Regions from separate parts of the Homo sapiens genome. Here regions 2 and 3 are each linked to region 1. The links come from fine-mapping of genetic effects on gene expression. A gene starts in region 1. Each other region holds a variant in brackets. All regions are shown on one strand. Distances are between the middles of the regions. Region 1 holds the start of FIS1 (fission, mitochondrial 1). Region 2 overlaps PLOD3 (procollagen-lysine,2-oxoglutarate 5-dioxygenase 3). Region 3 overlaps ZNHIT1 (zinc finger HIT-type containing 1).

Evidence for each region. PIP is the estimated chance that this variant, and not a neighbour inherited with it, causes the effect. A credible set is the group of variants that fine-mapping cannot tell apart.
Region 2: its variant is the best candidate, but not a certain one, in a credible set for the expression of FIS1 in lung (TOPMed, PIP 0.52).
Region 3: its variant is the best candidate, but not a certain one, in a credible set for the expression of FIS1 in aorta (GTEx, PIP 0.50).

Annotation. Positions count from the first base shown.
Region 1 is chr7:101,243,856-101,246,693 of GRCh38, reverse strand. It overlaps FIS1 (fission, mitochondrial 1), which reads left to right and starts at 1,613. Exons shown (of 5, transcript NM_016068.3): 1 at 1,613-1,734; 2 at 2,555-2,687. The coding sequence starts at 1,690. RefSeq lists enhancers at 1,590-1,829, 1,920-1,969.
Region 2 is chr7:101,207,010-101,209,847 of GRCh38, reverse strand. It overlaps PLOD3 (procollagen-lysine,2-oxoglutarate 5-dioxygenase 3), which reads left to right. Exons shown (of 19, transcript NM_001084.5): 16 at 891-995; 17 at 2,124-2,270. Among named protein-coding and RNA genes, the nearest start is that of MOGAT3, 7.4 kb to the right of the region's middle. The variant G/A (reference allele first, on the strand shown) is at 1,352.
Region 3 is chr7:101,221,321-101,223,820 of GRCh38, reverse strand. ZNHIT1 (zinc finger HIT-type containing 1) reads right to left here. Exons shown (of 5, transcript NM_006349.3): 2 at 1,047-1,217; 3 at 265-344; 4 at 1-148. Among named protein-coding and RNA genes, the nearest start is that of ZNHIT1, 4.4 kb to the right of the region's middle. The variant G/A (reference allele first, on the strand shown) is at 1,236.

The DNA.
Region 1 (2,838 bases):
AAACCCCATCTCTGCTAAAAATACAAAAATTAGCTGGGTGTGATGGCCGGCGCCTGTAATCCCAGCTACTTGGGAGGCTGAAGCAAGAGAATCGCTTGAACCCAGGAGGCGGAGGTTGCAGTGAGCCGAGATTGTGCCACTGCGCTCCAGCCTGGGTGACAGAGCGAGAAACTGTCTCGGAAAAAAAAAACAAAAAACAAAAAACAACCTGGGTGTGGTGGTGCACACCTGTAGTCCCAGCTTCTTGGGAGACTAAGGCAGGAGGATTACAGGAGCTCAGGAGGTCAAGGCTGCAGTAAGCTCTGATTGTGCCGCTGCATGCACTCCAGCCTGGGCCACAGAATGAGACCCTGTCTCTAAAAAATAATAAAAATTAAAGGGGCTTTGCAAACGCGGAAGGTGTCTGGATGATTATCCCCTGCATGTGCAGTGCCTTGTTTACAATTAATTTGCTTTTTCCGTGTTTATTCAACAAATATTTATTGAGCCCTCACTCTCTGCCAAGCCCTGTGCTAGATGCTGGATAAGCAAGGTAAGTCTCTGCCCTCAAGGAACTTACACTCCAATGTGACTCAAGGGGAAAAGAATTTGAAAGTTGCTACTTACCCAGTCCCCTCACTGCACAGAAACTGAAGCCAGAGGTGTCCACACCTTTCTCCTTCCCATGCTCTGATAGCTCCTCACTGCTAAGCTCCCCATTGCCCGTGACCCCATGTGGCAGGTTTCCCGCCTGGGGTGCACTCCCAAAATGGTTTATGTAAATAATATTGAAAATTGGACCTTCTCTGCCAATAATGGGGCCGTTGCTTTTTGAAAAACTTCCCGTTGATAGTGTCTCCTATGACTACCCCTGTGTGGCTGTGTGGTTTACAGATCCAGTTGCCTCTGCTCTTGCATTGTGAGAGTCAGCAGAGGCCCAAGAAACCCCGATACTAGTTTGCTGCTGTTGGTGGGTTTTTTGAGACAAGGTCTCTGTCGCTCAAGCTGGAGTGCAGTGGCGCGATAACTCACTGCAGCCTCGAACTCCCGGACTCAAGCGATCCTCCTGCCTCAGCCGCCCCAGTAGCTGGGAGTACAGGTGCACGCCACCACGCCGGTTGATTTTTTTAAAAATTTTGTAGAGATAGGGTCTCGCTATGTTGCTCAGGCTGGTCTTGAACTCCTGGCCTCCAGCGATCTTCCCGCCGCGGCCTCCCAAGTTGTTGGGCTTCGGACGTGAGCTACGCGCCGGGCTCCCGGTTCTAGTTAAGATTTTGTTGCAGGCGATGAATAGTCACGTGGCCTCCAAGGTCCTAGATTTCTGAGGGGCGTCAGCTTGGCACCCTAATGTACTGTGATCTCTGGTCAGCTACCCACCCTCTTTTTGCTGTTTTCATCCTGGGGGCTAACCGCCAAGACATGGCCTCCAGTTTCCCTAGGGAAGCCTCCACAGAGGAAGGCACCGGCTGAGGCACCTGGGAAGACCAACCTGGGGAAGGTCTCCCTGCGCGCAGTCTGCGGGCTGGAGGGACCGGCCGAGCCTGCGCACTAGCGCCCCGCCGGCGCTGCTGAACTGAGAGGAAGGGGCGGGGCGTCGCCAGGTCGTGCCAGCATCCGCCGGACGCCGGAAGTGGTTCTCCGCCCCTGCCACTGGGCCATGGAGACTGTGGCACAGTAGACTGTAGTGTGAGGCTCGCGGGGGCAGTGGCCATGGAGGCCGTGCTGAACGAGCTGGTGTCTGTGGAGGACCTGCTGGTGAGGCCTGGCCCGGACAGAGGGAAAGGGAAGGTCGGAGGGCGGGTCCTGAGGAGAGTCAGGTAGGGGCCGAACCCTCCTCCCGGCATCGGCTTGGCCGAGGGAAGCCGAACTACGGCTCCCGGCAGCCTCCACAGCGCCTGGCTCCTGCCCGGAGGGCCTGCTATGCCGCAGAGGCTCCTGGGAGTTGTAGTGTCCTGAGCCCCCCACACCTCAGACTACGGGCCTGGAGCCCGACCGTGGTTAGACTGACGGGATCTGGGATCATGCAGGAGCTGTGAGCTCAGGGCGCTCCTCCAGCGGTGGAGGAATACAGTGACCATCATAAGGTGTCACCTATTACTGCGTCCGGCACGGTGCTAAGGCATCGCATGCCAGATCTCAGTCTTTGTAGCTCTAGGAGGTAGGCACTACTTCTATTCCTGGACAATAAAAGGTCCAGGCCCGGCAGGGTGGGGCAGGATGGGGCCAGCAGCCTCAAATGAGGACCGCGTGGGCTGTTGAGCAGTTCTGACAGCGTGTTTACTGTTCGGCCGCCGGGGTCAGCTGCTCCGGGAGCGGTGCCTGGAGCTGCCACCAGGTGGCATCTCCGCTCGGTACCGCCGCGGGGAGGGGAGACCGGGGGCCTCTGTCCCAAGAGCTGGCCCGCAGGCCCGGAGGAGCCGAAAGCCTGGGTCCCGGGCATGGAGATAGCAGAAGCTGGGGTGCCAGATACCGAGACCTGCGAGGGAAAGGGGCAGAGCCAGGGAGATGGCATGTCCAGATAGAGAATGGTTGACGCCCTACATTTCTAAATGATTCCTTTCCTCCCCTGTGGCAGAAGTTTGAAAAGAAATTTCAGTCTGAGAAGGCAGCAGGCTCGGTGTCCAAGAGCACGCAGTTTGAGTACGCCTGGTGCCTGGTGCGGAGCAAGTACAATGATGACATCCGTAAAGGCATCGTGCTGCTCGAGGGTGAGGCGCTGTACTCTCCCTTTCCCGCTGCCATCTGGGCTGCTCTGCGATGTGGGCCCCGTAGTCCAGGCACCTCTGAGTTGTCTCCGGTAGATTTACTGCACCAAGGGCTATACTTAGCTTGACGTCTCCCAGTGAACTTTTGGCTACT
Region 2 (2,838 bases), 37 kb after region 1:
AGAATGGGGCTGGGCTCAGTGGCTCATGCCTGTAATCCCAGCACTTTGGGAGGCCAAGGTGGGTGGATCGGTTGAGGCCAGAAGTCCAAGACCAGCCTGGGCAACATAGCGAGAATCTGTCTCTACAACAACAACAAAAAAATTAAATAAGAAATGAGGCCAGGAGTGGTGCTCATGCTTGTAATCCCAGTACATTGAGAGGCCGAGGCAGGCAGATCACCTGAGGTCAGGAGTTCGAGACCAGCCTGGCCAACATGGCAAATCCTGTCTCTACCAAAAAAAAAAAAAAAAAAAACACAAAAATTAGTCAGGTGTGATGGCGTGCACCTGTAGTCCCAGCTACTCGGGAGGCTGAGGTGGGAGAATCGCTTGAACCTGGGAGGCAGAGGTTGCAGTGAGCCAAGATCACGCCACTGCACTCCACCTTGGGTGACACAGCGAGACCCTGTCTCAAAAAAAAAAGAAAAGAAAAAATTAGCTTGGCATGGTGGCATGTGCCTGTAGTTCCAGCTACTTGGGAGTCTGAGGCGGGAGGATCGCTTGAGCCCAGAAGGTCGAGGCTGTAGTGAGCTATGATTGTGCCACTGCACTCCAGCCTGGTTGACAGAGCAATACCCTATCTCAAAAAAAAAAAAAAGAGGTATGCACTGTTACGGAAGTTTGGAAACCACTGTCCCAGCACGAGGGGCTCCAGGACCCTCTGCCACCTCTCCTGTGCCAGAAACCGGTCCTCAGCCTTGCCACTCCCTCAGCCCCTACCTGGCGGGTCCCCGGCTGCTCTCACAAAGCCTTCCCTGCTCCTCCCTGCCCCTTCCCATTCTGCCTGCTGCCTGTCCCCTTCCCCGTTCTGCGGCGTCAGCTAGCCCTGTTCTCCCTCGCCCCATCCTCAGCCATGCCCGGACGTGTACTGGTTCCCACTGCTGTCAGAACAAATGTGTGATGAGCTGGTGGCAGAGATGGAGCACTACGGCCAGTGGTCAGGCGGCCGGCATGAGGTAAGGGCCTGGGCGAGGAGGGCAGAGGCCTTCCCAGAGGAGGAGGTGCAGGATCTGGTAAACAAACAATGGAATCAGGAAAATGGGAGCAAAGAGGGGTTCCCAGGGGGGAGGCAGACCCTGGGGTCACAACTGCATTCATTCATGTATTCAAGAAATATTTACTGCTGGGCACAGTGGCTCATGCCTGTAATCCTAGCACTTTGGGAGGCTGAGGCGGGAGGATTGCTCGAGCAGGGGGAGTTTGAGGCCAGCCTGGGCAACATAGCGAGACCCTGTCTCTACAAAAAATTTAAAAATTAGCCGAGTTTGGGCCAGGTGCGGTGGCTCACGCCTGTAATCCCAGCACTTTGGGA[G/A]GCCGAGGCAGGTGGATCACCTGGGGTCAGGAGTTCGAGACCAGCCTGACCAACATGGAGAAACCCCATCTCTACTAAAAACACAAAATTAGCCGGGCATGGTGGCGGGCGCCTGTAGTCCCAGCTACTCGGGAGCTGAGGTAGAATTGCTTGAACCCGGGAGGCAGAGGTTGCAGTGAGCCAAGATTGAACTCCAGGCTGGGCAACAAGAGTGAAACTCCATCTCAGAAAAACCAACAAATTAGCCGGGCATGGTGGCATGTCCCAGCTATTCAGGAGGCTGAGGCAGAAGGATCACTTGAGCCCCAGAGTTAGAGGCTGCAGTGAGCTATGATCATGCCGCAGTACTCCAGCCTGGGTGACAGAGCAAGACTCTGTCTCTAAAAAAAGAGAAAAGGAAATCATTCCTGGGCCACTGTCCTAGACTGCACTGCAGGAATGCCTCATGCCGGTCGAGCTCTGCCCTGCTGTGAGCAGCAGCCACCACACAGCTTCTAAGGCTGCGATGAGCAGCCTGGGTGCAATAGAAGCCACGGGGAAGCCTTGACCCAGACTTGGGAGGAGTAGGGAGCTTCACAGGACAGGTGACATCTTAGCTGAGACTTGAAGGGCCGGGAGCAGTGAGTCAGGCCGAGAAGTAGCAAAGAAGACTGTTCTGCACAGAGGAACACAGGTGTGAAGGCTGGAGGACGGGAGGAAGGAGGCTGGACTGCCCTGGGGTGGGGAGCGCCATGGCTGGAGGGGCGGGTGGCTCAGTGCCCGCCGCCCCCAGGATTCAAGGCTGGCTGGAGGCTACGAGAATGTGCCCACCGTGGACATCCACATGAAGCAGGTGGGGTACGAGGACCAGTGGCTGCAGCTGCTGCGGACGTATGTGGGCCCCATGACCGAGAGCCTGTTTCCCGGTTACCACACCAAGGTGCGCTGCCCACCTGCCAGCTGCCTCCCCACCTTCCCCACCCCAGTCCCGGACAGGAAGTCTCCACGCAGACCCCTTTCGGCCCCGGCAGCATTTGGGCTCCATGCATTTTAGTTCCCAGGGGAATGAGACGCTGCAGGAGGCACCCCAGGGGAGGGAGGGCGCCAGGCTGAGACCCAAGGTGAGGCTTGGCCCTAATTTAATGCCAGTGAGCAGCGAGAGCCTCCTACGCAGGGGTCCCGCCGCCCCTCCCCTCCCCTCCCTGGACAGGGACCGTCATCTCCCTGAAGACACCCTGCGATGGCCGGGCGTGGTGGCTCACACATGTAATCCCAGCACTTTGCGAGGCTGAGGTGGGTGGATCACCTGAGGTCAGGAGTTCAAGACCAGCCTGGCCAAGATGGTGAAACCTCGTCTCTACTAAAAATACAAAAATTAGCCGGGTGTGGTGGCAGGTGCCTATAATCCCAGCTACTCGGGAGGCTGAGGCATGAGAATTGCTTGAAACCGGGAGGCAGAGGTTGCAGTGAGCCAAGATCGAGCCAAGATCGCACCACTGCACTCCAGC
Region 3 (2,500 bases), 23 kb after region 1:
GACAGCGCACAGTGCAGTACCGGGCACCGCAGCTGACACAGGTGTAGGGGGATGGGAAGCCACAGACAGCACAGAAGGGGCGCTGGGGCCGCGATGGGGGTCCCGCACAGGCCGTCAGGTAGTTAGGGCCCTCGGCCACACTCAAGTTCTGCAGAGACAAGGGGCCGGCTCTAGAACTCCTCCGCCCACCCACGCAGCGAACACCTGCCCGGGCCAGGCTCACCCCTTCCCTGTGGGGTCCTCCCAGGCCGACCCTCCTCTCACCTGCTCCTCCAACAGGGCCTGAAAGTTTTTTCGGAAGCGAAGTTTAAAATGATCACCTCGGGTTTTCTTCTTTTTCTTTCCTAGGGGTCAAGGGTGATCCGTTGCTTGGCACTTGCCCAGAAAGACAGCAGCTTTCTCTGGTTCATCACTCCCCATGCCCATGTGCCCTCCTGGTTCTTTTTGAGACAGTCTCACTCTGTCACCCAGGCTGGAGTGCAGTGGTGCGATCTTGACTCACTGCAACCTCCATCTCCTGGGTTCAAGTGATTTTCTTGCCTTGGCCTCCTGAGTAGCTGGGATTACAGGTGTCCACCACCATGCCTGGCTAATTTTGTTTTTGTATTTTTAGTAGAGATGGGGTTTCACCATGTTGGCCAGGCTGGTCTTGAACTCCTGACCTCAAGTGATCCGCCCACCTCAGCCTCCCAAATGCTGGGATTACAGGCGTGAGCCACCACACCTGGCCCTGCCCTCCTGGCTCTAAGTCGGCCCCTCGCTACCAGCCTCTGCCCTCCACCCCAATTCTCCAATCCCAGCTGACAGTCACCTCCATGCCCCCAAGCCTAAGGCTTCGTGTCAGAGCTTATCCAGTCTCTCTTGTTTATTTCACATACACGAGAGGAAACTGAGGCACAGAAAGGGGGTGTGGTTGCTCACAGCCATGGGAGCCAGTCACTGGCAGAGGCACCAGGAGCTCCTGGGTCCTCCCACAGCCTGAGTTGGGCGGACTCTCCCGCCCTCCTCTCAGTCCCATCCCCCGCTTCCTCCTCCATCCGCCTCACCAGTGTCCGCATCGTCATCAAACTGAGGCAGTCTCTTGCCGAGCTGAGGGAGTCCCGCGTGGGGGTCATCCTGGAAGTTGTCATTCTCCAGGGCCTCCAGCTGCCGGTTGATGCGACGCTGCCGGGCAGCCCGGTCCAGCACCCGCCGCTGCCCGGGGTCCTGGGAGCGAACTGGATGGAGCAGGGCAC[G/A]CAAAGTTACAGGGCTTCCAAGAAAGAGCAGTGTGGCCGCCGCTCTGGGCAGGGCGAGGAAGGCACCCGGGGTGGAAGCTGCAGCTCTCTGATCTCATCCCCATTGCCAAGCCCTTGGTCCCCTTGTCTCCTCCCGGGCCAAGCCCTGGGCCCACACTTCCTGTCCCGCCAGCTGAGACCCTTTCAGTTTCTCCTGCCTGTTTTCTCCGCCTTCCTCTCAATCCCAGTCCCAGCCAGTGAGCCCCGGCCTGGAGACAGCTCACTGCTGACTGGGGAGGTCACAGCGCCCTGGGGCTTCCAGGCTGTCCTGGGCCCTCAATACACATGGCCCTCACACTCAGCATCTCACCTCCTACCTCAAAGGAACCAGGGGCCACCCATGCTTGGATACGCTCATCTTCCAGGCCACCTACCCACAAACGTGATGCCAAGTGGGCACACCCCTGCCCTGGAGCGCCCCAAGTCCCACCACTGACCCCGAGCCTTCACCTCCAGCCCATTCCCTCCCTCTCCCATCTTCAACCCCTCCTCCTCAACCGGCACTTTCCATCAAAGAGCTGGCGACGCTCATGTGTCTACTCGGCTTCACAGCTCCTTCTCCTTCACAGCAACTCACGTGATGTGTCACTTTTTCACCTCCCATCCTCTCCTTGAACCCCAAAATCTGACACCTGCCTGGTCATCCTGGGGGACCACCCACCCACGCTCTGGGCCCCAGAGCGGCTCCAGTGTGCCTTCCTCCTCCTCCTTGGACCTGAGCCCTGTCCACCCTGTGGCGGTGCCGACTACCTTCATCGAGTAGAAAGAGACCCTTTGCTTGCTTCCTTGACAAAACTGCAGGCCTTCTCCATGTCCAGGAATCCTCCGGCTCCAGCTCGGCTGCTCTCCCTGCCTCTATGGAGGTGGCTGGCCCTCTTCTCTGCTCAGTCTATGCACTCTTCCTGGGATTTTGACTCCAAACAAAGGGCTCTGATGATCACCCACAAGCAAATGACTCCCAGAGTGACTCCCTCAACACAGAACCTGCTCCCGGGCTCCAGAACTGGCCATGCAGCCAGCGCCTGGTGAGGCCGGGTGTGGTGGCGCACGCCTGTAATCTCAGCACTTTGGGAGGCCAAAGGATCGCTTGATGCCAGGAGTTAGAAACCAGCCTGGGCAGCATAGCCAAACCCCATCTCTACAAAAAATTAAAAAATAAGCCAGGCGTGGTTGCACATGCCTGTAGTCCCAGTTACTTGGGAGGCTGCGGTGGGAGGACTACATGG